Homo sapiens: one gene and its partners. The protein of the gene in region 1 purifies or fractionates together with the protein of each later gene. This does not show direct contact. Each region holds a gene or a part of one and is shown in the gene's direction. Other genes may lie near its edges. The genes, in order: PCCB, AMZ2, NDUFS1, HADHB, VDAC3, ATP6V1A and OGDH.

Evidence for each region.
Region 2: the proteins of PCCB (region 1) and AMZ2 purify together in Homo sapiens (affinity purification with mass spectrometry; one large-scale study listed by BioGRID and IntAct). This does not show direct contact.
Region 3: the proteins of PCCB (region 1) and NDUFS1 fractionate together in Homo sapiens (co-fractionation; one large-scale study listed by BioGRID). This does not show direct contact.
Region 4: the proteins of PCCB (region 1) and HADHB fractionate together in Homo sapiens (co-fractionation; one large-scale study listed by BioGRID). This does not show direct contact.
Region 5: the proteins of PCCB (region 1) and VDAC3 fractionate together in Homo sapiens (co-fractionation; one large-scale study listed by BioGRID). This does not show direct contact.
Region 6: the proteins of PCCB (region 1) and ATP6V1A fractionate together in Homo sapiens (co-fractionation; one large-scale study listed by BioGRID). This does not show direct contact.
Region 7: the proteins of PCCB (region 1) and OGDH fractionate together in Homo sapiens (co-fractionation; one large-scale study listed by BioGRID). This does not show direct contact.

Annotation. Positions count from the first base shown.
Region 1 is NC_000003.12:136,326,840-136,330,339, forward strand, and holds the end of PCCB (propionyl-CoA carboxylase beta chain, mitochondrial isoform 1 precursor), read left to right. Parts: coding exon 1-71; intron 72-315; coding exon 316-416; intron 417-794; coding exon 795-893; intron 894-1,918; coding exon 1,919-2,018; intron 2,019-3,065; coding exon 3,066-3,187; 3' UTR 3,188-3,330; downstream 3,331-3,500. UniProt on the Homo sapiens protein: This is one of the 2 subunits of the biotin-dependent propionyl-CoA carboxylase (PCC), a mitochondrial enzyme involved in the catabolism of odd chain fatty acids, branched-chain amino acids isoleucine, threonine, methionine, and valine and other metabolites.
Region 2 is NC_000017.11:68,246,662-68,250,842, forward strand, and holds the start of AMZ2 (archaemetzincin-2), read left to right. Parts: upstream 1-1,381; 5' UTR 1,382-2,044; intron 2,045-3,524; exon of another isoform or gene 3,525-3,526; coding exon 3,527-3,809; coding exon of another isoform or gene 3,810-3,819; intron 3,820-4,132; coding exon 4,133-4,181. UniProt on the Homo sapiens protein: Probable zinc metalloprotease.
Region 3 is NC_000002.12:206,142,445-206,145,944, reverse strand, and holds part of NDUFS1 (NADH-ubiquinone oxidoreductase 75 kDa subunit, mitochondrial isoform 1 precursor), read left to right. Parts: intron 1-918; coding exon 919-1,053; intron 1,054-1,812; coding exon 1,813-1,927; intron 1,928-3,113; coding exon 3,114-3,259; intron 3,260-3,500.
Region 4 is NC_000002.12:26,251,439-26,254,938, forward strand, and holds part of HADHB (trifunctional enzyme subunit beta, mitochondrial isoform 1 precursor), read left to right. Parts: intron 1-2,808; 5' UTR 2,809-2,816; coding exon 2,817-2,880; intron 2,881-2,991; coding exon 2,992-3,036; intron 3,037-3,500. UniProt on the Homo sapiens protein: Mitochondrial trifunctional enzyme catalyzes the last three of the four reactions of the mitochondrial beta-oxidation pathway.
Region 5 is NC_000008.11:42,401,880-42,404,158, forward strand, and holds part of VDAC3 (non-selective voltage-gated ion channel VDAC3), read left to right. Parts: coding exon 1-136; intron 137-1,073; exon of another isoform or gene 1,074-1,211; intron 1,212-1,431; coding exon 1,432-1,582; intron 1,583-2,279. UniProt on the Homo sapiens protein: Non-selective voltage-gated ion channel that mediates the transport of anions and cations through the mitochondrion outer membrane and plasma membrane.
Region 6 is NC_000003.12:113,778,035-113,781,534, forward strand, and holds part of ATP6V1A (V-type proton ATPase catalytic subunit A), read left to right. Parts: intron 1-706; 5' UTR 707-719; coding exon 720-801; intron 802-3,015; coding exon 3,016-3,144; intron 3,145-3,500. UniProt on the Homo sapiens protein: Catalytic subunit of the V1 complex of vacuolar(H+)-ATPase (V-ATPase), a multisubunit enzyme composed of a peripheral complex (V1) that hydrolyzes ATP and a membrane integral complex (V0) that translocates protons.
Region 7 is NC_000007.14:44,697,127-44,700,626, forward strand, and holds part of OGDH (2-oxoglutarate dehydrogenase complex component E1 isoform 1 precursor), read left to right. Parts: intron 1-243; coding exon 244-371; intron 372-477; coding exon 478-656; intron 657-1,065; coding exon 1,066-1,137; intron 1,138-3,014; coding exon 3,015-3,143; intron 3,144-3,500. UniProt on the Homo sapiens protein: 2-oxoglutarate dehydrogenase (E1o) component of the 2-oxoglutarate dehydrogenase complex (OGDHC). Participates in the first step, rate limiting for the overall conversion of 2-oxoglutarate to succinyl-CoA and CO(2) catalyzed by the whole OGDHC.

The DNA of each region.
Region 1 (3,500 bases):
TTTTGTCAGATTCTGTGATGCATTCAATATTCCACTCATCACTTTTGTTGATGTCCCTGGCTTTCTACCTGGTAAGTTTTTGACAGAGTGGGGGCTAGGAGAGTTGCCTTTCCCAGTAAGGTGCCCACTTTATTTGGAGATCTTCTTGCAGAACTCCCCGAGGACTTGTGACTTCTCCATGTATTCTGGGTGTCCAGAAGATAGGGCTGTGTAAGGAATGGCCCTCTCCAGAGGTGGGAAAGACCTCACAGCTGAGAGTGGCAGGATAACCATGTGAGGACTTGTGGGTATCTAGTAACTCTTCCTCATGTCTAGGCACAGCACAGGAATACGGGGGCATCATCCGGCATGGTGCCAAGCTTCTCTACGCATTTGCTGAGGCAACTGTACCCAAAGTCACAGTCATCACCAGGAAGGTGAGGACCTCATGTTGGAGGCCATGACCCTGCTCACTTTCCTACAGCATAGCCGTGGTGGGAGGTCTGGCAGAGTTTTACCAGGGCTGGAAGGAGTACACCTTGCTCATCCTTAAAAAGATCTCTTGAGGATGTTGTTCCCAGCCCCGCAGAAATGTCTGTGCTTTTTTAACACAGGGGAACTGAAGGCAGTAGTGGGAAAAAGCCAGAAAAGATAATGAGCATTAACTTTGAAAGGTCTTACAGACCGTGGGCCTTCAGGAGCCCAGTAGGGCTATTCTTGTTCTTTGTCCCAATTTTACCTGGTTTCCTGGGGTCTTTCAGGGACATGATCTGGCTGTCTCAGGCTCTAACACTCAGCATTTGGATCTGTTTTAGGCCTATGGAGGTGCCTATGATGTCATGAGCTCTAAGCACCTTTGTGGTGATACCAACTATGCCTGGCCCACCGCAGAGATTGCAGTCATGGGAGCAAAGGTGAGGGCCTCTTGCTTTTCCCTTTCTGGGTCCAAGGACTCGACTCTACCAGCGAGAGCTCAAGGCATAGCTGGGAAATGTTGGAGAGAGGCCAGGGCCCCTAGGTTGAGCCAGGACTGAGGTGAATGGGACCTAGACCTTGGTAAGTCTCCCTCTTGGGGCTCCAGAGATAGCTCTGCCTCCTGTCCTATACCCTTTCTTCAGGCCCACGCTGGTGTCTTCATGCCAAGGTGGGTGCGGCAGGTGAAAGGAAAGTGAGAGGGGTCCAGAGTGGTTTTGAGATTGTAAGTAAAGGGGGCAAAGGGTTGAGTCAACTGAAGTCACCTTCAGAAGTATTGGACATTCTCCCAGCTCCACCTCAGCTTCCAGGGAGGGCCCCAGAGCTACTCTTTTAAGCTCATAAGAAGCTAAACTGTAGGTCCGACCCTAGTGACGTTGGACAAGGTACTTCCTATTGCTTGACCTATTCCTCACTCCTCCCTGCTTTGAAGTAGCTATTGTGGTCGAATCAGATAACTTCCAGGTCCCCTAGAGTTGACTTATAGGTGCTCTGACTTGAAGGCCAATCCTTCTAATTTCCAGTTCAGTCTGGTCGCCTCTGGCCACCGAATTGTATACTCAGGTCTTAGGGTACCGAAAAAGGGAAATAGCACATTTAATTCCCCTTGATACAAGACCATGGATTTAATAATGGAAAACAGGGCTAACATCTTTGGCTCAAAGAAATATGATGAGTGCAAATGGAGATGGTAGAATGGGCTCTGGGGAGAGAAGCTACTGGCTTTTGCCTGACTGCCCCTTATTGGGGCCACAGGGAAGCATCACATCCCATCATGCAGCCCCTTGTGTCATGATGGTCAGCCCCAGGCAGTTCCTCCCTCTATGCTATGGCCTTTAGAGATGGCACTTCCCCTCAGTACACTGATTTACCAAGAAATTTGCACCCACACACAGTGATAATGAGTTGAAGGAGATCTGTCCAGGTTGGGACGACCAAAGATGTTCATGAACTCCTCTAATCACAGGGCGCTGTGGAGATCATCTTCAAAGGGCATGAGAATGTGGAAGCTGCTCAGGCAGAGTACATCGAGAAGTTTGCCAACCCTTTCCCTGCAGCAGTGCGAGGTAGGGGACTGTGGTGAAGAGGGCAGCTTTGTTTGTTTGGTCAACTTGCTCATTCTTTCTCTACAGAAATTGTCACATAACTGCCTTTTTGCCTTTGCAGTCTAATCTGTTGACTAGTGAGGGTTGGGACTGTCCCTGGGCAGTCATCACTTGGACTAAGGACTGTGGGACAGGCTGCTTTGGTAACCACAATTAAAACAACATTGCCAAAGTGTATTAAATTTCTAGGTGTTGTTCCAGTTGTCTAGTGCTGTGCAGAAATTCACCCTATAACTCAACAGCTTAAACTAACCACCGTTTCCCCCACTGCTTATGGTTCTGTGGGGTCCACAATTTGGTCTGGGCCCAGCTGAGTGGTTCTTGTGCTGGTCTTGCCTGGGATCACCCACACAGGTATAGTCATTCTGTGGCTTGACCGGGGCTTGACAGTCCAAAATGGCGTCACTTACTTGGTAGTTGCTGTTAGCTAGACTCACTCCCCACGTGGCCTCTCACCCTTGAGGAGGCTAGTCCAGGCTTCCTTACATGGTGTCCCGAGAGTAGCAAGGGGGCAAAGGGAAACTGAGGCCTAGATTTGGAAGTTGCACAGTGTCATTTTTGCCACATTTTATAGGCCAAGAAAACTCAACAAGGTTAAGCGAAGGAATACAAATCCACCTCTTGAAGAGAGAAGTGGTAAAGTCACATTGCAGGACTTGTGTACAAGGATGAATTGTTATAGCCATTTTTGAAAACCTAGATGTATTTTCTTTATTTCCTATTGAATTCATTGTGGCAGGATGGAGGCATTGGAGCAAGCAGGGTATAGGGAGGGTGTCCGATTTTCCTTTTCTTGCCAAGTGCTCCTAGGCCAGAAGTTGGGGAGCTGTCAGAACAGGCCAGCTCCTGGGATACAAGGGGGAATTCACAGGGCCTACCATCTCTGTATCAGGTTGGGCACTGCTTATACTGCTGGCCCCAGGGATGGTGCCCAGGCTGAGCAGAAGGTTGAGGGGTGGCATCATCTCGGGATGCAGATGATCCACTCCCTTTTCTGTGCTTCACCAGGGTTTGTGGATGACATCATCCAACCTTCTTCCACACGTGCCCGAATCTGCTGTGACCTGGATGTCTTGGCCAGCAAGAAGGTACAACGTCCTTGGAGAAAACATGCAAATATTCCATTGTAAACAAATCAAAGGAAAAGAAACCAAGAACTGAATTACTGTCTGCCCATTCACATCCCATTCCTGCCTTTTGCAATCATGAAACCTGGGAATCCAAATAGTTGGATAACTTAGAATAACTAAGTTTATTAAATTCTAGAAAGATCTCTTTTGTGCCTTACTGTAAAATTATTTACTTTTTTAAACATTTTAAGTTGTATTTTTTGAGCATAAATTCGATTTTTTTAGGTGGAAATCTGAAAAATCAATACAACTAGAAAGAAAAATAGTACACAGTGTTATCATCTAGAGCTGATTTTTATTTCACACCTCTGGG
Region 2 (4,181 bases), on another chromosome or scaffold:
TGAGGGTGGATATGGGCACTGGGTTCAAAGGACAAATTTGGAGAATTCATGATCCAGGAGAGTGAACAAATAAGGAAGGGCTAAAGAGATCCTCGAAGTTGAAAGGTTCAGAGTTAATGTCCTCTAAGGAGAGCCAACAAGGGGTTACAAATGCTGAAGTCATCAAGAAAATGTGCCTGTCTTTCCTTGAGACTGGGAAGGAGAATTAGGATGACGAAAATCCAGAGGATGGTAAAATAGCTTGACTTCAAAATAACAGGCCGGGCGCCGTGGCTCACGCCTGTAATTCCAGCACTGTGGGAGACCGGGGTGCGGGGGGGTGGATCACCTGAGCGCAGGAGTTCGAGACCAGCCTGGGTAACAGGGTGAAAACCCGTATTAAAAAAAAAAAAGCCGGGCGCGGTGGCCCACGCCTGTAATCCCAGCACTTTGGGAGGCCAAGGCGGGCGGATCACTTGAGGTCAGGAGTTCGAGACCAGCCTGGCCAACATGGTGAAACCCCATCTCTACTAAAAATAACAAAAATTAGCCGGACGTGATAGCGGGCACCTGTAGTTCCAGCTACTGGGGAGGCTGAGGCGGGAAAATCGCTTGAACCCAGGAGGCAAAGGTTGCACTGAGCCCAGACTGTCCCACTGCACTCCAGCCTGGGCAACAGAGCAAGACTCCGTCTCCAAAAAAAAAAAAAAAAAAAAAAAAGCAAGAAAAAGAAAGAGAATGGCGAGGCCCAGAGAGACCGAAAGTCCCACCAGAGGGTACAGAGCTAGCTCAGCCCTAATGCCGGCCCCGCGGTGCCTTTCCGAGCTCACGGCCTCCCCTCAGCATCCGGGTTTCGGCCTCGGAGCGCCAGGGACGCCACGAGGACGCGCCCCACACTTGCGCTTCTGGGTTCCAGCCCCCGCGGCCCCCAACAAATAAAGAAGGGAAAGTGCTGAGGGTGACGGCCCCGGGGAGCGCTGCGGCTCTACGTCAACCTGCGGCGGCCGCCGACTCATTTGGGGCCACGCTGGTTGCATTCGTCACGCCGGCGATGCCTCTCAAACCCGCGGCCTGCCGAGGACGTTCCCACACGGGAGACCCCAGCGACGCGGGCGCATCTGTGGCTCTCGAGAACCGGGCCGCGGAGCCGCCGCGAGCGCAAGCGAGGAATCGGCGACTGCGGGGGTGGACAGCTGGGGCTTGTAGTCCCCTCGCTACCCTCTATTCTGGAAGAGGCGGGTCGCGGCCGCTGAACTCCAGCTCTGCGCCTGCCCAGGCGGCCGCACGCTCAGGGGCGTGGCATGGGTGGGTCGTGAGTTGGGCGGGGCCCACAGGGCGTGCGCGACGCAGCGGCGCGGCGCGTGGCGTAAGGGGCGTGGCGCCAGTGGGCGTGGCGTGGCGCAGTGCGAAGGGACGCGGTGCGCATGCGCGTGAGGGCTGCCGCGGGTGGGTGGTATCGAGGCCTGTCGGGTCAGGGCGGTTCGCGGGTGCTGTCAGAGCTGGGCCGGGGCCCCTAGGCAGGGTAGCCGGGTCGTAGAGGCGGGGGCCGGTCGCGGTCGGTGGAGCGGGATGAGGATGTAGGAGGGGCGGACGTGGCGGAAGCCGCGGGGTCCGCGGGGTCGGTGCCTCTAGGGAGCCAGGGAGGCCTTTCCCGAGGCTCCTGGGGAAGAAGAGGCGAAGCGAGAGTCCCTGGGGAACCCCCACTCCACTCCCAGCTGGAGACTGGGTTGTGTCTGCATGGACCAGAGCCCACAGTGCGAGTTGCTATAGGCAACCAGCCAGGGTGGCCAGCTCCTTCCCGTTTGCCCGTGATGTTCTGGTTTTGGGACCAAAGCATCCTAGGCCTCCAGCCCACTGCAGTGACCGAATTCTGCGCCCCCTGCCCATCTTCTCCCGCAGCTTCCCTAGATTAGGCTTGGGAGGCAAGAGGAGGCCTCCTGACCTTTCACACTGCCTTTTTAATATTAAGATGAAGTCACACTCCACAACTTTCTTCCAGCCAGGCCCAGACATGTCCGTCCTTGTAAGTTAAAAGCTTCCATGGGAGCCTTCCTTCCTAATCAAGGTAGGTAGACTACAGGAAGGTACATCTTGTTTTATATTTTGTCCTGTAGAAGTCAGATTTCAGCCCAGTTGTGTAGGAGTGAGGATGAGCCTATGCTTATATCAGAGCTTTGAGTACAGAGACATTTGGTCTGGAATTTTAGTCAGCCTCTTCAACCCCAGAATTTATAGGTTCAATCAGAACAGACATTAGCTTAAGTTTTCCCATCAATCGTCTATCATTAAACTGGCAAAATCTAAATAATTAGAAAATATGACAAAGATGATCCAGACAGAGATGTTCAACTTTTTCCTTAATTCAAAAAGCCTCGTGGTGGAACATCGGACCCATTCAAGAGGAAGGATGAAAGCTCTATATAGGAACACGATGTGAATGGAAGAAACCTGTCATTGTGAGGCTGGCTTTTGATTAGTCATCTGATGTCTTCCCTAATGTGACATGACTTTGAGGCCATAAACTTCAGTGGCTAAGCTGTAGTTTCTCAGCCTGCAGTTAAATTGCAGAAATGATAGGGCTTACATTAGTTTTGTTTTTATTTGATGTTGAAGATCTTTGAGTCACATTAGAAACGATGAGTATTTTTCATGTGGCACTGATGAGTTAATTCATATTATTATTTTTTGAGACAGAGTCTCTATTGCCCAGGCTGGACTGCAGTGGCACGATCACGGCCCACTGCAGCCTCGACCTCCTGGGCTCAGATGATCCTCCCATCTTAGCCTGCCAAGTAGCTGGGACTACAAGTGCACATCACCACATCCGGCTAATTTTTTTGTAGATATGGGGTTTTGCCATGATGTCGAAGCTGATTTCAGACTCCTAGGCTCAAGTAATCCTTCTGCCTTGGCCTCCCAAAGTGCTGGGATTATAAGCGTGAGCCACTGTGCCAGGCCAATATTATTCCCCAAAAGAAGGAAGTTGGGTGTGAGGTCCTGCTCCTGTGGTCACCGTGAGGTTTTTTTTTTTTGTTTTGGACTCTTGCCCAGGCTGGAGTGCAGTGGCACAGTCATGGCTCACTGCAGCCTCAAGCTCCTGGGCTCAAGTGATTCTCCTGTCTCAGCCTCCCTGGTAGCTAGGACCACAGATGTGCACAACTATGCCCAGGGAATTTTTAAATTTTTTGTAGAGACAGGGTCTCACCATGTTGCCTGAGCTGTTCTCAAACTCCTGGCCTCAAGCAATCCTCCTATCCCAAAGTGCTGAAATTACAGGCATGAGCCACCACACCTGGCCACCACTAGTTTTTGTAATGGGAGCAGGTTCCATATGAGATGGAGGAATGGATTTCATGATTGTCTTTTTAATTTCTTAGATCTCCAAGAAATTGGACATGAGGAAACCACTCTAAGTGTGACCACTCTAAAGCATTAGCAATCAGTCATTTCACTCTAGGGAGAAATCAGAGCTGAAATATAGAGGATAGGTAAAGTCCCCAATGTAGATATGTATTTTTATATTTGATTACTTGCTTTTTTTTGTTAGATGCAAATAATACGGCACTCCGAACAGACACTAAAAACAGCTCTCATCTCAAAGAACCCAGTGCTTGTATCACAGTATGAGAAATTAAATGCTGGGGAACAACGTTTAATGAATGAAGCCTTCCAGCCAGCCAGTGATCTCTTTGGACCCATTACCTTGCATTCTCCATCAGATTGGATCACCTCCCACCCTGAGGCTCCCCAAGACTTTGAACAGTTCTTCAGTGATCCTTACAGAAAGACACCCTCTCCAAACAAACGCAGCATTTATATACAGTCCATTGGTAAATACTGGTAATGTGCTGGTTTTGGTTCAGTTTTGCAGTGGCGCTCTTGTCAGGAATAGTCCAGGCTATGGGTCTGATTCAGATGGGCCGTTTTAGGATCGTTTTTGATATTCATTGCGGCGGTACAAGTTTTGTAGCCAAACTGACTTAAAAGATAACATTTTGTTTCTTTTTGTTTCATAGCAACACCAATGAATGATAAAGGTTATTGAAAATTTAGAGTTGGTTTTGTTTCTAATTTGAATCTTCTTACTCATAGACTGGGTAAACACTGAATAATCATCTTAAAGTCTGTTTTTAAATGTTCTTCCATATTGTAGGCTCTCTAGGAAACACCAGAATTATCAGTGAAGAATATATTAAATGGCT
Region 3 (3,500 bases), on another chromosome or scaffold:
CTGTTAGGAATGCTTGCCGCAATTACCACTACAAACTTAGGCTGGTAAAATCTTGGCTATCCTCAGCTACGATGACCTCCAAAGTATCACCTCCACAAACAAGTTTGCCTCGTGCTCCAAGTTAAGTGAGTTGTCTCCATCTGTACCAAAGAAGTTCTCATCTTCACAGCCTGCCCCGGCCTCGAAGAAATTCCATTTTGAGGGGGTGGAGAGGAGCATAGGAGGAGCACTGAGCCCAGCCACCAGTTTTTCAGTGCATAAAAGCTTCCCACATTGTATGTGTTTAGATTTCTAAACTGCTGAAATGGTGGGTTTTGTCATTTTTGGCCAGCTTTACTTTTGCTTTTCAGTGGGAAGGTTTTTTGAGCTCCTTAATCTCCCATAGACAGAAATCCTGCCCCTCTTGTTGAATCGTCCCAGATTTGGCTAGTTGGAGCCCCTTCAAACTAGCTTCTGTGTCAGATAATAGTTTTAAAGCCTTCCTTACTGTGCCAGGAATTTATGTGTTCAAATGTGGGTGTGCCGGGAGCAGTGGCTCACACCTATAATCCCAGCTTTTAGGAGGCCAAGGTGGGAGGATTGCTTGAGACCAGTAGTTCAAGACCAGCCTGGTCAGCATAATGAGACACCGGCTCTACAAAAAATTTTTAAAATGTGGTGAGAGGATAGTTTGAGCCCAGGAGTTCTAGGCTGCAGTGAATTATGATCATGCCACTGTAGCCTGGGCAACAGAGTGAGACCCCAGGGCAAAAAAAAAGGTGGGGGGTTCTTTTATTTAATTGCAGTTCCTCTAAGCTTCATTTTTTAAAGTAATTCAGAAAGGGAATTAATTGTAAAAAAAATTTTTTGGTAAACCAGGTAACAGAAACTTTCTTTATTCCCAAAAGCACCATAGTAAACACCGTATGTGTTTCTCAGAAAGACAGAATCCATTGATGTAATGGATGCGGTTGGAAGTAATATTGTGGTTAGCACAAGAACTGGAGAAGTGATGAGGATTTTGCCACGTATGCATGAGGACATCAATGAAGAGTGGATCTCTGATAAAACCAGGTATATGCTATATTGTTTTCCTTAACTTTTACAGTTTATTTAAAGGAAATTTTATAATAATTTTGAAGAATTATCTTTTATATTTGCAAATTAGTTACTGAATATAGACTACTGGAATCTGAGTTGCTTATATAATGTGATAATACTGACTTTAATAGTCCTAGGTCAATCCCTGGATATTGTATTTACTTTGAGAAAGATATTTTTTCCTCCCACATGGAGAAATTCAAGTAGATTGATACATTCTCAACTTATTTCAGTTTGTTCATTAGAGAAAAGAAGCTAGGCTGGGCGCAGTGACTCACACCTGTAATCCCAGCACTTTGGAAGGCCGAGGTGGGATGATTGCTTGAAAAAGAAGCTGAATAGAAGAGTTTGCACAATATAATTTTGATAAAATATTTAGAGATACTCATGCTTTGTAAATAAAAATGATTTGACTTTTTTAGCTGTCAGATTTTTTTGTGTTGTAATTTTAAGATTGTTCAGTTAGCTGAAAGTATAAGAAATCAAACTTTTTTTTGTATGATTTAAGGGAAGAAATCAAACTTTCAGATGGTATTTTAGTTTTAGGTGAAGTTCATAAAATCTATTAGTTCATCTCTAAAAATATCTGGAATAATTACTTGTATCTAGGTGTTTAGATATTTGACACTTTAACCAGTACTGTATTTAAATAACATTTCTTGTTGATTTAACTTGAAAATTATAGTTACTTCTTTAGCAAGATTCCACAATGGTGTAATTTCTGTTTTCTAGATTTGCCTATGATGGGCTAAAACGTCAAAGACTTACCGAGCCAATGGTCAGAAATGAAAAAGGGCTTTTAACCTATACTTCTTGGGAGGATGCGCTCTCTCGCGTAGCTGGAATGGTAAAATTTGAAATAAATAGTGTTAAATAGTGTTTGTGATTATCAAGAAACATCTTTGCCATGAAGGGGGGGATGTATATTTCTTCCCTTTTTTACTTTTACCAAGATTATGATTTAATCTCCTTCCATTTTACAGACATCTACTGAGGACATATGCTAGATATTATGCTATTAAGGGATATAAAGACCAGAGACACATCATTCCTGCATCCTACAATCTTGTAGTAGAGAAAGTTGCACAATTCAGCAATTATTATATGCAGCTATGAGTAATTATATAAGGAGTAATATGAGTGAGAGCACGTAGGAGGAATGCCTAACTAGGACAGGCATATCAAGATGCCTTCCTTGGAGGTTGCAGTGAGCCGAGATCGCACCACTGCACTCCAGTCTGGGTGACACAGCGAGACTCCATCTCAAAAAAAAAAAAAGCTGCCTTCCTACAGAAGGTGATTCTTAAAGAAGAATCTGAGAATGAATATAAGCTTGCCAGAGTACAAGTGGAGGGAATAGTTTTCTTGTTAGAGAAAGACAACATAAAGCACTAGAGGGAAAGGCAGATACTTCAGAGGAGGTCGCATTTAAGGTAACTATAGTTCCACTTCATTCTCCAGACCTCATTTTGAAGTGCCTTTGTTCCTAAATATAAAACAGCTTCCTTCTAAGTTGATGTTATTAGCTGTGGCCCCACATAACACCTCTGCAGCTTTTCACTTTTAGATTAATTAATAATTGTTGTACAACTTTTTTTGTGTTTTTGAGATGGAGTTTTGCTGTTGTCGCCCAGGCTGGAGTGCGGTGGCGCGATCTCGATCTCGGGTCACTGCAGCCTCTGCCTCCTTGGTTCAAGCAGTTCTCCTGCCTCATCCTCCCGAGCAGCTGGGGATACAGGCGTATGCCACCATGCCCAGCTGATTTTTGTATTATTAGTAGAGATGGGATTTCACCATGTTGGCTAGGCTGGTCTTAAAGTCCTGACTGCAGGTGATCCGCCCACTTCTGCCTCCCAAAGTACTGGGATTACAGGCATGAGCCAGTGTGCCTGGGCATGTTGTAAAACTTTTAATCAGAAGTCTGTTAACTTTTTTTGTACTTGAAAACAAGTACTGTTTTATTTTCTGAACATTTCATTGTGGTCTTTGCTGCGTGTAGGTTTCTTGGTGATGCCCTTTTCATCTGTTTCTAGTTGCAGAGTTTTCAAGGCAAAGATGTGGCAGCAATTGCAGGTGGCTTGGTGGATGCTGAAGCCCTGGTAGCTCTCAAAGATTTGCTTAATAGAGTGGACTCTGACACCTTATGCACTGAAGAGGTCTTCCCCACTGCAGGAGCTGGGTGAGAAATATGAAGCTAGGATCTAGGCTTTCCTTTCTTTTTTTAGTTACAAGTTATGTATAAAATGTGACAACCTGGATTCTCCAACATATCCCCCAGTTTATTTTCATATATAGACCAAGATCAAACCAGAAGTTGTAGGAAATAGAGGAATCCACTTATCACTAAGTATCTCAGGCACAGTGGCTCACGCCTGTAATCCCAGCACTCTGGGAGGCCAAGGCAGGCAGATCGCCTAAGT
Region 4 (3,500 bases), on another chromosome or scaffold:
CGGCCTCCCAAAGTGCTGGGATTACAGGTGTGAGCCTCTGTGCCTGGCCTAGAAAGTTTTGTTATCTGTTGCAACAAGGTTCCCCCTTTTGTTTTTCAACATTTTCTTGACAATTTTCATGAATTTTATTTCAAGATGAACCTTACGTAAGGGAACTTGTAGCCCAGACCCTTGTGGCATTGTAAGTAGCTTCTGAGTGGTGCCTCTCTCATGGGCCTCTTTGTGTTTCTCTGGCCAGAGTCCTTTGAATATCCCTAGGCTGGTGATCCTAAAGCTTGGGCTTCTCCATCTCTTTCCAATCCACATGTTTGGAACATGTTTTGTTTTTTTCTTTTCGGAAGCTATAGGACCTCCTTCTTTTAGTCTCTAAAGACCCAAGAGAAGTTAAACCTTAAAGCTTTTGTATTATCTATTTCTGTGTAGCCAATTACCGCCAAATGTAGCAGTTTAAAACAATACATGTTTACCATCTCATAGTTTCTGAAGGTCAGGAATCAAGGGCACTTTAGCTGGGTTGCTCTGAGTTTCCCATAAGGTGGCTGTCAGAATGTTGGCAGGGCTGGAGTCAGCTGAAAGCTTGCCTGCGCTAGAGGCTCCGCTTCCAAGCTCACTCACATGGCTGTTGGCAAGAGGCATCAGTTCCTCACCACAGGAGCCTCTTCATAAGGCTGCTCAGGACATGCCACCTGGCTTCTCTCATAGTGGGTGAGCTGAGAGAGAGACCACGACAGATGCTGCAGTATCTCTTATAGCCTATCTCAGAAGTGGCATACCATTACTTGTAACATACTTTTTGGTTTATACATTCTGTGATATGGAGAGGGAGGCAGCTAGACAAGGATGTGAATACCAAGAGGTAGAGATTATTGGGGGGCAACTTGGAGGCTGGCTACCAAAGTCTTTGTTGGTAAATCTTGTGGGATTTTTTTGGTTTTGATTTTTTGTTGTTGTTGTTAAAACATGCTTCAAAATTAAGAAATTATAAAAGGTGTGTGATGACAAGTCTTCCACCCCTGACCCCTAGTTACCCAGTTCCCTTTCTTCCAGCCAACAATTATTTTTAACATCTTTATTATACTTCCAGGGGGATTTTATACTGATACAAGGAAATGTACATAATATTTTTCCTCTTTTAACATGAATGATAGCATGCTGTACAGCTATTTTGCACCTTGCTTTCTTCACTTAATGATACAGCTTAAAATGGTTCCGAATTGGTGCATAATCATTTCCTTACCTTTTACAGCTGCATAGTATTTCACAGGGGTGTTGTAGCATGGTTTACTTACCCATTTTCCTATTTTTTGGTTATTCTAATTTTTGACTATTACAGTAACAATATGGATTATGTCCTGTGTGTGAGTAATATCCATGAAGTCAGTTCATGGAAGTGGAATTGCTGGTTCAAACATTAGTTTCAGTTATAGTTTTCATGGATAATTACCAAATTGCCCTCCCCATGGACTGTGCCAGTTCTCTTGGCAGCAGTATATGAGAATATCTATTTGCACATACTCTTACCTACACAGAGTATATATCAAACCTTTGAATCTTTGCTACTTTGAGAGACAATTATATCTGTGGTTTTAATTTGAATTCTTCTTATGAGTGAAATTGAACATCTTTTCATATACTTAAGAACCATTTGTATTTCCTTTTCTGTGGTCTGTTCATATTCTGTGCCTATTTGTCTGCTAGTGTTTTCCTTAGTAATCTGTAGGAACTCATTGTTAGAAATTTAGTCTTTTTTGGAGGGGTGGGGGAAAGTTGTTAATATATTTTACATATTTTTTAACATATAGGGTTATTATATGTTTTACTTTTTTATTGTTTTGAAACAATACAGTATCAAACTTTGAAAAAGTTGCAAGTGCAGTACTACAAACTTTTTTTAGTAGCAGTTGAGATTAAGTTGCTGACATGATGCTTCACCATCCCTATTTAGTGTATATTCCCTTCAGATACAAACATTCCACAAAGCCTTCTACATAATCATAGTACAGCCTTCAGAATCGTGAAACTAATACTAATGGTTTTATTATCACGCCTAGCAGTCTCTCTGCTTCTTTGACCCTAAAGGAGAGGAGCACACACTCTAGAGGTAGACTTCCTAGGTTCAAATTCCAGCTCTGGGCCTGGTGCGGTAGCTCACGCCTGTAATCCCAGCACTTTGGGAGGCCAAGGCGATGGATCACCTGAGGTCAGGAGTTCGACACCAGCCTGGCCAACATGGCAAAACCCCATGTCTACTAAAAATACAAAAAATTAGCCGGGTGTGGTGGCACGTGCCTGTAATCCCAGCTACTCGGGAGGCTGAGGCAGGAGAATCGACTGAACCTGGGAGGCAAAGATTGCAGTGAACCGAGATTGCACCACTGTACTCCAGCCTGGGCAACAAGAGCAAAACTCCATCTCAAAAAAATAAATAAATAAATAAATAAATAAATAAATAAATAAATAAATAAAAATTCCAGCTCTGCCACTCACTAGTTGTAGGTCTTTTGGCAAGTCACTCAATCCTACTATGCCTCAATTTCCTTATCTCTTACAAAGGATGTAATAATCATGCCTCCTTTGTAGGTCATTGTGAAGATTAGATGGTTAATGCTTAGAATAGTGGTTGCTGCAATGTGAAAACCATGTTGGTGTTCCTATCATAATAATATTATTAGATGAAGAATAGTTGATAAGATTAAGTTTTAATGTTTTCTAGTAGCCATGGATGAGGTTATCAGAGTTCATAGACTACAATGTAAACTACAAATTGTTCAGCTAATCCAGGATATACTTTTGTTCTTCTCTTTTTAGATTCCAGAATGACTATCTTGACTTACCCCTTTAAAAATCTTCCCACTGCATCAAAATGGGCCCTCAGATTTTGTAAGTTTATTATTATTTTTTTATTTTTAGAGATTGGATTTGGATTTATAAACATCTCGCACAGATACTGAATGGTATTGCTTTTTGTAAACAGTTTATTTTGTCTTCCAGCCATAAGACCTCTGAGCTGTTCCTCCCAGCTACGAGCTGCCCCAGGTACAGTAATTTGTAAAATAAATATTTCTGATTTAAATGTTAGATTCCAGATTCTATAGTTTGTGAACTCTGAATAAAAACCAAAACTAATTTGCTAATTCTCCCCTTTTTATGAGCACATGAACATCTCTGTTGCCTTCAAATTAAAAAATTATAGGTCCAATCAATAATGATACTACATTATTTAGGATTAGGCTTGAGGATGTTAATGGGAGGCTGTTTTCTGGGATTTGAACCTGCTGGAGTCATGGAGGTTCCATAAACCTCGTTGGTCAGTTTATTTATCCTCTTGCTGTCCGTCCTGGAGGTGAATGGCATACAAATGCTCTTGAGACCTGCTATGGAACCAAAAGTTAACTTTAAATTTGCAATTTGTGAAATGCTTCTCTATTGATGAATATCTTCTTCTCCCATGTGCAAGAGGGCCCATTCCTGAAATAGAAGTGATTAGGAACTAGTTAATA
Region 5 (2,279 bases), on another chromosome or scaffold:
ATGGCTGGGCTGTGTTGGCCTTCGAAGGGTGGCTTGCTGGCTATCAGATGAGTTTTGACACAGCCAAATCCAAACTGTCACAGAATAATTTCGCCCTGGGTTACAAGGCTGCGGACTTCCAGCTGCACACACATGTGTGAGTGTTTATAATTTATTCCTTAGTATCAGTGCAGTTGCCCAAAATATTGTAGCCATTAGCATGCTGAGAAGTGATGGTACTCAGATTTAGCATGCCTTGGTGAATATCCATCCTTGCGGTGCTATCCTCATAGCAAAACCTTGCCAGGAGGCTGGTGCACGTGGTGTGCAGGCTGTGCTGCTGGTGGTCACTGGCCCCTCAGCCTGCACCCCAAACTTGAGGAAGCTCCAGCCTCTGTAGAAGAACCACTGGGATAGAGGGAGCCCAGAGCATGGCTTACCTCATGGTAAGATGACCCTTTGGAGATGTTACTGCTTCCTCTGCTGCCCTCTCATCTTGACAGTATCTGGAAGCAGGTCTGTTTTGGTCACCAACAACCACCACCAAATTGATCTGAGCATCCTGGGACATCCCGGTAATTCTGTGGAGGTTTCAGGTACTGGTATTCTCGGTTGGAACCCAGGTACCGCTAATGCATTCAGAAGTAACAGGTGCTCTGAAAGAGTCCTGGGATTCAGTTATGTAGGCTGCACCATGTTGGTGGGATGAATCAGAACTTTTACGTAGTATTTTATGTTGAGCCTACTGGACACTGCTACTATACCAGGAAGAAAAAGCAAAGGGCAAACTATGTGTTTTTAAACTGTTGCAGATTCCTCTCTGCTAGATGCTCTAATTTACTTATGATGGCTAAAACAAAGGCAAGCAGTGGTATAGACAGTTACTGAAATTGATGAAACAGTATTATCAGGAAAACCATGTGAAAACCCAAGGACTCACCTCTGGCATGCTTGGAAGCAATAACTAAGGTGGTTTTCTGGAGCAGTGCACCCTAGGTATCGTAGGAGGGTGCTTTCTAACTGTAGGATTGTGTTTTAAAGGAAATCCAGAATTGGTTTTATTCCTATACCTCTACCTTTTTATTTTTTTGCAGAATCTTTATTGAACTCTACTTTGAAGTTTCTAAGTTCTATGAACTTCTCAGAGACCTATAGATTATACTTACCCGAGGTGTCTGCCTTTGTGCTTAATTGAATTGTCTTAAGAAACTCACATCATGTGGAGGAGCCAAGTAAATGGATCAAGTGTTAACGTTTTAATTAAGCAGTCATTACTGGCATAGCTGGATTTAGTTCTGTGTTTTGTTTAGTAGTCATTTATGCTAGAAATTTGCTGAAATCTATAGTTACAAAATGGGATCCTTGTTTAGATAGTCTTAGAATTTGTTTTCATACCATAATAACAATGGTACAAACTAGATATTTATGACGTTTTCTTATCTATGAAAACAGGAACGATGGCACTGAATTTGGAGGTTCTATCTACCAGAAGGTGAATGAGAAGATTGAAACATCCATAAACCTTGCTTGGACAGCTGGGAGTAACAACACCCGTTTTGGCATTGCTGCTAAGTACATGCTGGATTGTAGAACTTCTCTCTCTGTAAGAATGTGCTGCCAGATTGGATCTGCTCTTATGTTTGTGTCTAAGTTTTCAGAGAATGTTGTGATATGAGTGTAGTTTGCTTGTTCTTTATTAATTTTAATAAGCCAGCTCATTGTGTAGTGAAAGGAATATAATGTGGCCAGGCTCACGCCTGTATTCCCAGCACTTTGGGAGGCCAAGGTGCATGAATCACCTGAGGTCAGGAGTTCAAGACCAGCCTAGCCAACAAGGTGAAACCCTGTCTTTACTAAAAATACAAAAATTAGGTGGGCGTGGTAGGTGACGCCTGTAGTCCCAGCTACTAGGGAGGCTGAGGCAGGAGAATTGCTTGAACCCTGCAGATGGAGAGGTTGCAGTGAGCCAAGATCACACCATTGCACTCCAGCCTGGGTGACAGAGCGAGAGCCTATCTCAAAAAAAAAAAAAAAAAAAATTATGCTTGACGTCAGGAAATAGGGGTTCTTCTAGTCCTAGCTCTTCCTGTATATCTGTTGTCTGACCTTGTCATTTTATCACTTTGGCCTCAGAATTTTCTTATTTGGAAATTCATGGGATTAGATGACTATTTCTGTTGCTATAGTAACTCTTACTAAAAATAACACTGAGCTGTTAAATTTCATGTACTGTGCTAAGGGCTTTATGTATATTATGTCATTTAACGCTCACAACCACTCCATGTGGCGATTAGTGTTAT
Region 6 (3,500 bases), about 23 Mb from region 1:
GATATAATTCAGTTGTGATAAAACCATCCAGCATCCAGGAATAGGGTACTTTTAACTACATTTTAGGAATTTTGGCTGGGTTCAGTGGCTGGCTCACGTCTGTAGTCCCAGCACTTTGGGAGGCTGAGGTGGGTGGATCACTTGAGGTCAGGAGTTTGAGACCAGCCTGGCCAACGTGGCAAAACCCTGTCTCTACTAAAAATACAAAGATTAGCCAGGTATGGTCACGTGCACCTGTAATTCCAGCTACCCTGGAGGGTGAGGCACAGGAATTGCTTGAACTCGGGAGGCAGAGGTTGCAGTGAGCAGAGATCCTTCCACTGCACTCCAGCCTGGGTGGTGGAGTTAGACTCTGTCTCAAAAAAACAAACAAACAAACAAACAAAAAACTAGTTGGGCATGGTGGTACACACCTGTAGTCATAGCTACTTGGGAGGCTGAGGCAGGAGGATCGCTAGAGTCCAGGAGTCTGAGGCTGCAGTGAGCTATGACTGTACCACCACACTCCAGCCTGGGTGACAGAGAGCCTCTTAAAAATTTTTTTTAAATTAAGAAAAGGAATTTTTTTATTCTACTTTGAAGAAGTATAATAACTCAAGAATACACCAAAGATGAGAGTGGTCTCATCTTAGTGGACTACCTATATTTTGGGTCTTTTGCTTTACGGTTTATAATTATAACTTATTTATTTATTTATTTACTATAGGTAAACTAACATTATGGATTTTTCCAAGCTACCCAAAATACTCGATGAAGATAAAGAAAGCACATTTGGTTATGTGCATGGGGTCTCAGGACCTGGTAAGTAATACATCATAATCTCAAAATAAGGATATCTAACTTTGATTAATGTCTTTTCAAAATATTTTACATAGAAATATACAACTTTCTGTTTACCTGCATAAATTCTGTTTGTCCTTAGGCGATCTCATAGTGACTATAAGACCGAAGTAGAATCTCTGTCATAAGGGCTCATCTAGCATTGATTATCTAAATTTTATAATTATTGAGGTACTACTTTGTGATATCCTGTTTATAATTATGTAAATGTTCAACCAGTGTTCAGTTTTATATGTCTTAATTTTTTGTTAAATTTGAGGTAAATAAACTATGAAGTTTATAGCTTTTAATATGTAATACCTTGCATATAGCAGGCATTCAGTAAATGTTAATTTGCTTTGAACTTTAATAATTCAAACGCTCAGAGCATTTCTCAGCAATATTAGCTTTTGCCCTTTGCATTTATGAAACTTTTTGAATGGTTATTTTAAGTGTCACATTATTAACTACCTGTGGGAAAGAAGTCTTAGGACCCAAACTTTATGTCCATTCTGCCAAAACATGGAGTGCTGCTTTTTAAATAATAAATCTTACGCCAGTATTTGTTTTGTTATTGAATACTCCCACTACACAATGTGATTCACAGTCACAGTTTCTCTAAGTAAAACCTGGTCAGTGATGTATTATCCTTAAAACCTCATGCTATATAGTCTTTTTCTTGTTCTAGTTAGAGTAGTGGTGATGACAGTTTTTTGATGTTTACGCAAATGAAGACTGTCAGTCACTGTGCCTCTTTTTTCTCCCCCAAGAACTTGGTGTTTGAGCTTGATTTCATTGGCAGGTCATTAAAAGGTTATCAGTATCTTTTGCCATGCAGAGAAATAATTGTCCTCTCAATGATCATAAGGGTCTTCAGGATGGACAGACTAAACCCAAGAACCTTTAGAGAAAAGGCAAAAGAACATCAGAGAGTTTAGGAAAAAATATTCTGTGAAACTGTGTAGTAAACTGCTCCTGGAAACAATTTTTATTTTATTTTAAAAATTTTTTTAAATTTTACTTTAAGTTCTGGGATACATGTGCAGAAAGTGTAGGTGTGTTACATAGGTATACATGTGCCATGGTGGCTTGCTGCACCTATCAACCTGTTACCTAGGTTTTAAGCCCCACGTGCGTTAGGTATTTGTCCTAATGCTCTCCCTCCCCTTGCCTCCTGCAATTTTTAATTCTTAAGTACTTAATAAGGTAATGGAACAATGGCATCCTTTTTTGGCTTATGAAATATGATTTTTAAATTTCATTATCTCTGGTATTTCAGTGCATCTTAATTCTTAAGTAGTCGGCATAGAGGTAAATATTTATAGAATGAATAAGTCTTCATTGTTTTTACACAGGTTAATTAACTCATAAAGCTTTAATAGTTTCCACTGAAGTATTACCTATAACATAGTTCTAATCAGTTGTATCAGAAGGCTAAATATTAAAAATTGGTTTATTCTTACACGTGTCTAAAAATATGGCAACCTTCCTTCCCTGCTAGAAAAGTAATTTTTGCTTACTAGACCACATGGTCCAAAATAGTAAGTTCAGTAAATGGAATTCCATTGACAATTTCTTACCCAATGGTGGTGACTGATTATAAATATCCTTACGGCCTATGAAAAAAATTTTGTAGATGTGTGTGTGAGTTTTTCTAGTAGAGCTATTATTAGTTTTTGAAAAGGGTCCATGTCCCAGAAGAGTTTTAAGAACTACTGCTATAAGTTATTAGAAAGTAAACATGTTGCTTTAGGTCTGTCTCTCAAAGGAAATGGTAACAGCACAGCGAAGTGATAATTGTGTGGCATTCTACCATACTACTAGCCAAACCATTTATTCCAATTTCTACTTTTAAAAGTTTTTTTTATTGTTCCAAAGCCTTCACTCCATGTATCATAGCAACTCTCAGAACATACCTGAATCCTACCAGGTAAGTTTGCCATGCAGAACTTGAAATGTTTGAAAAGTTTTCATGTATATTATGTAAATAAATAATCTTTGGCTTACCTCTTTATATTATACACTAAAATATATATCTATGTGAAACTACCAGTATGTTCCATAGTAGGTTTTTATCCTTCTTATGAATATATGAGAGAGGCACAATACTGGGTTTATTGGGTGTTTTAATTATTTGTGACTATTCACAGAGCACTAGAGTCTTAAGTCATCAAAATAGTCTTTTGTTCTCTTCAGTGGTTACAGCCTGTGACATGGCGGGTGCAGCCATGTATGAGCTGGTGAGAGTGGGCCACAGCGAATTGGTTGGAGAGATTATTCGATTGGAGGGTGACATGGCTACTATTCAGGTGTATGAAGAAACTTGTATCCTTTTTGGCTCAATTTCCTGCCACTTTCTATATTTCAAAATTTAAGGATTTAGGCCAGGCATAGTGCCTCACACAAAGTAATCCCAGCACTTTGGGAGGCAGGCAGGTGGATCACCTGAGGTCAGGAATTTGAGACCAGCCTGGCCAACATGGTGAAACTCCATCTCTAATAAAAATACAAAAATCAGCTGGGTATAGTGGCAGGCGCCTGTAATCCCAGCCGCTTGGGAGGCTGAGGCAGGGGAATCGCTTGCACCCTGGAGGTGGGAGGTTGCAGTGAGCAGAGATCGCACCACTGCACTCCAGCCTGGGCAACAGAGTGAGACTCCATCTCAGAAAAGAAAAAAAAAA
Region 7 (3,500 bases), on another chromosome or scaffold:
GGTGTTTCTTTTCCGGAAGACGGTTAGAAACCGGAAGAGTCACATTGCTCTCAGGCTGAAAACCTCTGTCCCTCATTTGCTATGGGTGCTTCTGTTAAGACCTGGGTGGGGCCGACCCTGCAGCTGCCTGGCCAGAAGTCCAGGTCACAGAGCATGGCATCTGCTGGTGCTTCGTGCGGGTCCCCAGCGTATTTGCTTGTCAAGTCAGAGCTCCTAATTATTACCTCTGTTGTCCTGTCTCAGCCACCGCCACCATGTGCTCCATGACCAGAATGTGGACAAGAGAACCTGCATCCCCATGAACCATCTCTGGCCCAATCAGGCCCCCTATACTGTGTGCAACAGCTCACTGTCTGAGTACGGCGTGCTGGGTGAGTGCCTGGAGCCACACCACCAGGGCCTGTCACCCACCCACCCCCGCTGGGCCTACTGGCTGGTGTCCTGGACATGGTTTTCTCCTTCCTTTGTCCCTTGTAGGCTTTGAGCTGGGCTTCGCCATGGCCAGTCCTAATGCCCTGGTCCTCTGGGAAGCCCAATTTGGTGACTTCCACAACACGGCCCAGTGTATCATCGACCAGTTCATCTGCCCGGGACAAGCCAAGTGGGTGCGGCAGAATGGCATCGTGTTGCTGCTGCCCCATGGCATGGAGGGCATGGTGAGCCTCTGGCCCTTCCCTGCCAGACCTAGGACTTGGGAAGGGCCTGTGTAGGACCCTGACCCCAAAGACTGGCACGAGAGCCAGTGGCTCACACCAGCCTCCTAAGGACTCTGCTGGTGCTTCCCATCCATCTCAGATGGGATGTCACTTCAGAAAGCCAGAGTAGCCCATCTGGATGTGGCTAGCATGCCCCGTCCCTGCTGGTGCAGACTCCCTAGATGCACAGGCGTCCAAGTGTGGAAATGATGAGCCAAGTGCTTTGCTGGTGGGAGGGGGAAGGAACTGAACCCTGCCATCAAGAAAAAAGATAACCAGAAATGAGCTAGTTGGTTGAGGAGGAACAGCAGATGCGGCAAATGTCAGTACGCAAGAGCTCTTAAACTGTAACTTGCGTGTGTGGTTCCAGGGTCCAGAACATTCCTCCGCCCGCCCAGAGCGGTTCTTGCAGATGTGCAACGATGACCCAGATGTCCTGCCAGTGAGTAATACAGGCCCTGTCAGCCCAGCCATTCTCGGGGTGTCTGGTGGGAAACCTGGGGAAGAGCAATCTATCTGGTCATCCTGAAGTGGCAGACCGTGCCTCTGTCCCTTTCTCCATCCTGGGGAGCTCACGTGAGTGGACAGGTGTGGCCCCATGCTTCTGGGCGCCCTGGGATGAGAGACTTCCTCAGAGCACAGAGGAAGGTGCAGGGACTGCCTCCATTGGCTTCCTGCTGTTGCTGCAAGCACAGAAACGCCATGTGAGCTCCTCAGCAAGGGCTCCTGCGGGATGCTTCCAGACCCTGATTCAGGTCTGGAAGCCCTGAGGAGGAGAGAACTTTGGGGCGATTCCAGTGAAACTTTAAGAACTCAAAGAACCAGCCTGGGCAACATGGTGAGACCCCGTCTCTACAAAAATTTTAAAAAGTAGCTGGGCGTGATGGTGCACGCCTGCAGTCCCAGCTACTTGGGAGGCTGAGGTGGGAGGATTGCTTGAGCTTGGGAGGTCAAGGCTGCAGTGAGCCAAGATCGTGCCACTGCACTCCAACCTGGGTGACAGAGCAATACCCTGTCTTAAAAAAAAAAAAAAAAAGAACTGTGCTGGGTGTGGTGGCTCAAGCCTGAAATCCCAGCACTTTGGGAGGCCCAGGCAGGCGGATCATGAGGTCAGGAGTTTGAGACCAGCCTGGCCAATATGGTGAAACCCTGTCTTTACTAAAAATACAAAAACTAGCTGGGCATGGTGGCGCCCACCTGTAATCCCAGCTAGTCTGAGGCTGAGGCAGGAGAATTGCTTAAACCCGGGAAGCAGAGGTTGCAGTGAGCCAAGATTGTGCCGCTGCACTCCAGCCTGGGCAGCTCCGTCTCACAAAAAAAGAACTGGCCAGGCGCAGTGGCTCACGCCTGTAAGCTCAACACTTTGGAGGCCCAGGCAGGTGGATCACGAGGCCAGGAGTTTGAGACCACCCTGGCCAATATAGTGAAACCCCGTCTCTACTAAAAATACAAAAATTATTCAGGCGTGGTGGCGGGCACCTGTAGTCCCAACTACTCAGGAGGCTGAGGCAGAGAATCGCTTGAACCCGGGAGGTGGAGGTTGCAGTGAGCCAAGATTGCGCCACTGCACTCCAGCCTAGGCGACAGAGGGAGACTCCTGTCTCAAAAAAAAAAAAAAAAAAAAAAAACTCAAAGAAAATGATTAGGTGTCAGTGTCTAAGGAAAATTGGTTTTAGGTAGAACTTGTGTCTCTTAAAGTGGTATTTGTTTCATGCTGGGCAATAGCTTTCAGAGAAATAGTATGGATTGAGTGGGACTGAGGCTCTCCTCCAGGGTATGAGGCTGGCCGAAGGAGCTTGCTGGACTCACTTGTTAGTGTCAGCTTATGTCTCCTGGGGAGTCAGTGTGTTAGGCCATTCTTGTGTTGCTATAAAGAAAAACCTGAGACTGGGTAATTTATAAAGAAAAGTTTAATTGGCTCACAGTTCTGTAGGCTGTACAGGAAGCATGATGCTGGCATCTGCTCAGCTTCTGGGGAGGCCTCAGGAAGCTTACAATCATGACAGAAGATGAAGTGGGAGAGCAGGCATGTCACATGGCCAGAGCAGGAGTAAGAGAGTGGGGGAGAGGGGCCACACACTTTCAACAACCAGATCTCGTGTGAACTCAGAGTGAGAGCTCACTCATCACCAAGGGGATGGCCCAAGCTCTAATCCTAACACCTCCCACCAGGCCCCACCTCCAGCAGTGGGAGATTACAATTCAACATGAGATTTGGGCAGGGACAAATATCCAAACTAGATCACCTGAGGGCCCCCACATGCCCCAGAAGACTCAGTGCTGTGTCCTGGCCTCTGGCCATTTCCTTCCCTGCTGCAGGACCTTAAAGAAGCCAACTTCGACATCAATCAGCTATATGACTGCAATTGGGTTGTTGTCAACTGCTCCACTCCTGGCAACTTCTTCCACGTGCTACGACGCCAGATCCTGCTGCCATTCCGGAAGCCGGTCAGTGGCAGGGCCTCCCTTGCTCAAACGAGGCCTGGCCCTGCCCTGTTGGTGCAGGGAAGGGCTCCTCAGAGAGCCTCTTGCTTGGGGTTAGCTAGGTGGGCACCTGCAGGGGTAGTGTGGACAGGACATGGTGTCAGGGAGCCTCGCCCTTCCTCCTCACTGCTGCCATGAGGGAACTGCGTGTTCTGTGTGTCCTCTTCCCCGACTGGGCCCCTGCATACTGCTGAGCACCACATGCGGAGCAATCACATAGGCTGCAGGCCCCAGCCCGGTGGGGAGGACGGATGTTTGAACAGGTGGTCATAGGGGGTGTGCTGAGCTCTGGAAGAGAGGTGAGCCCTGGCAGAGGCCAAG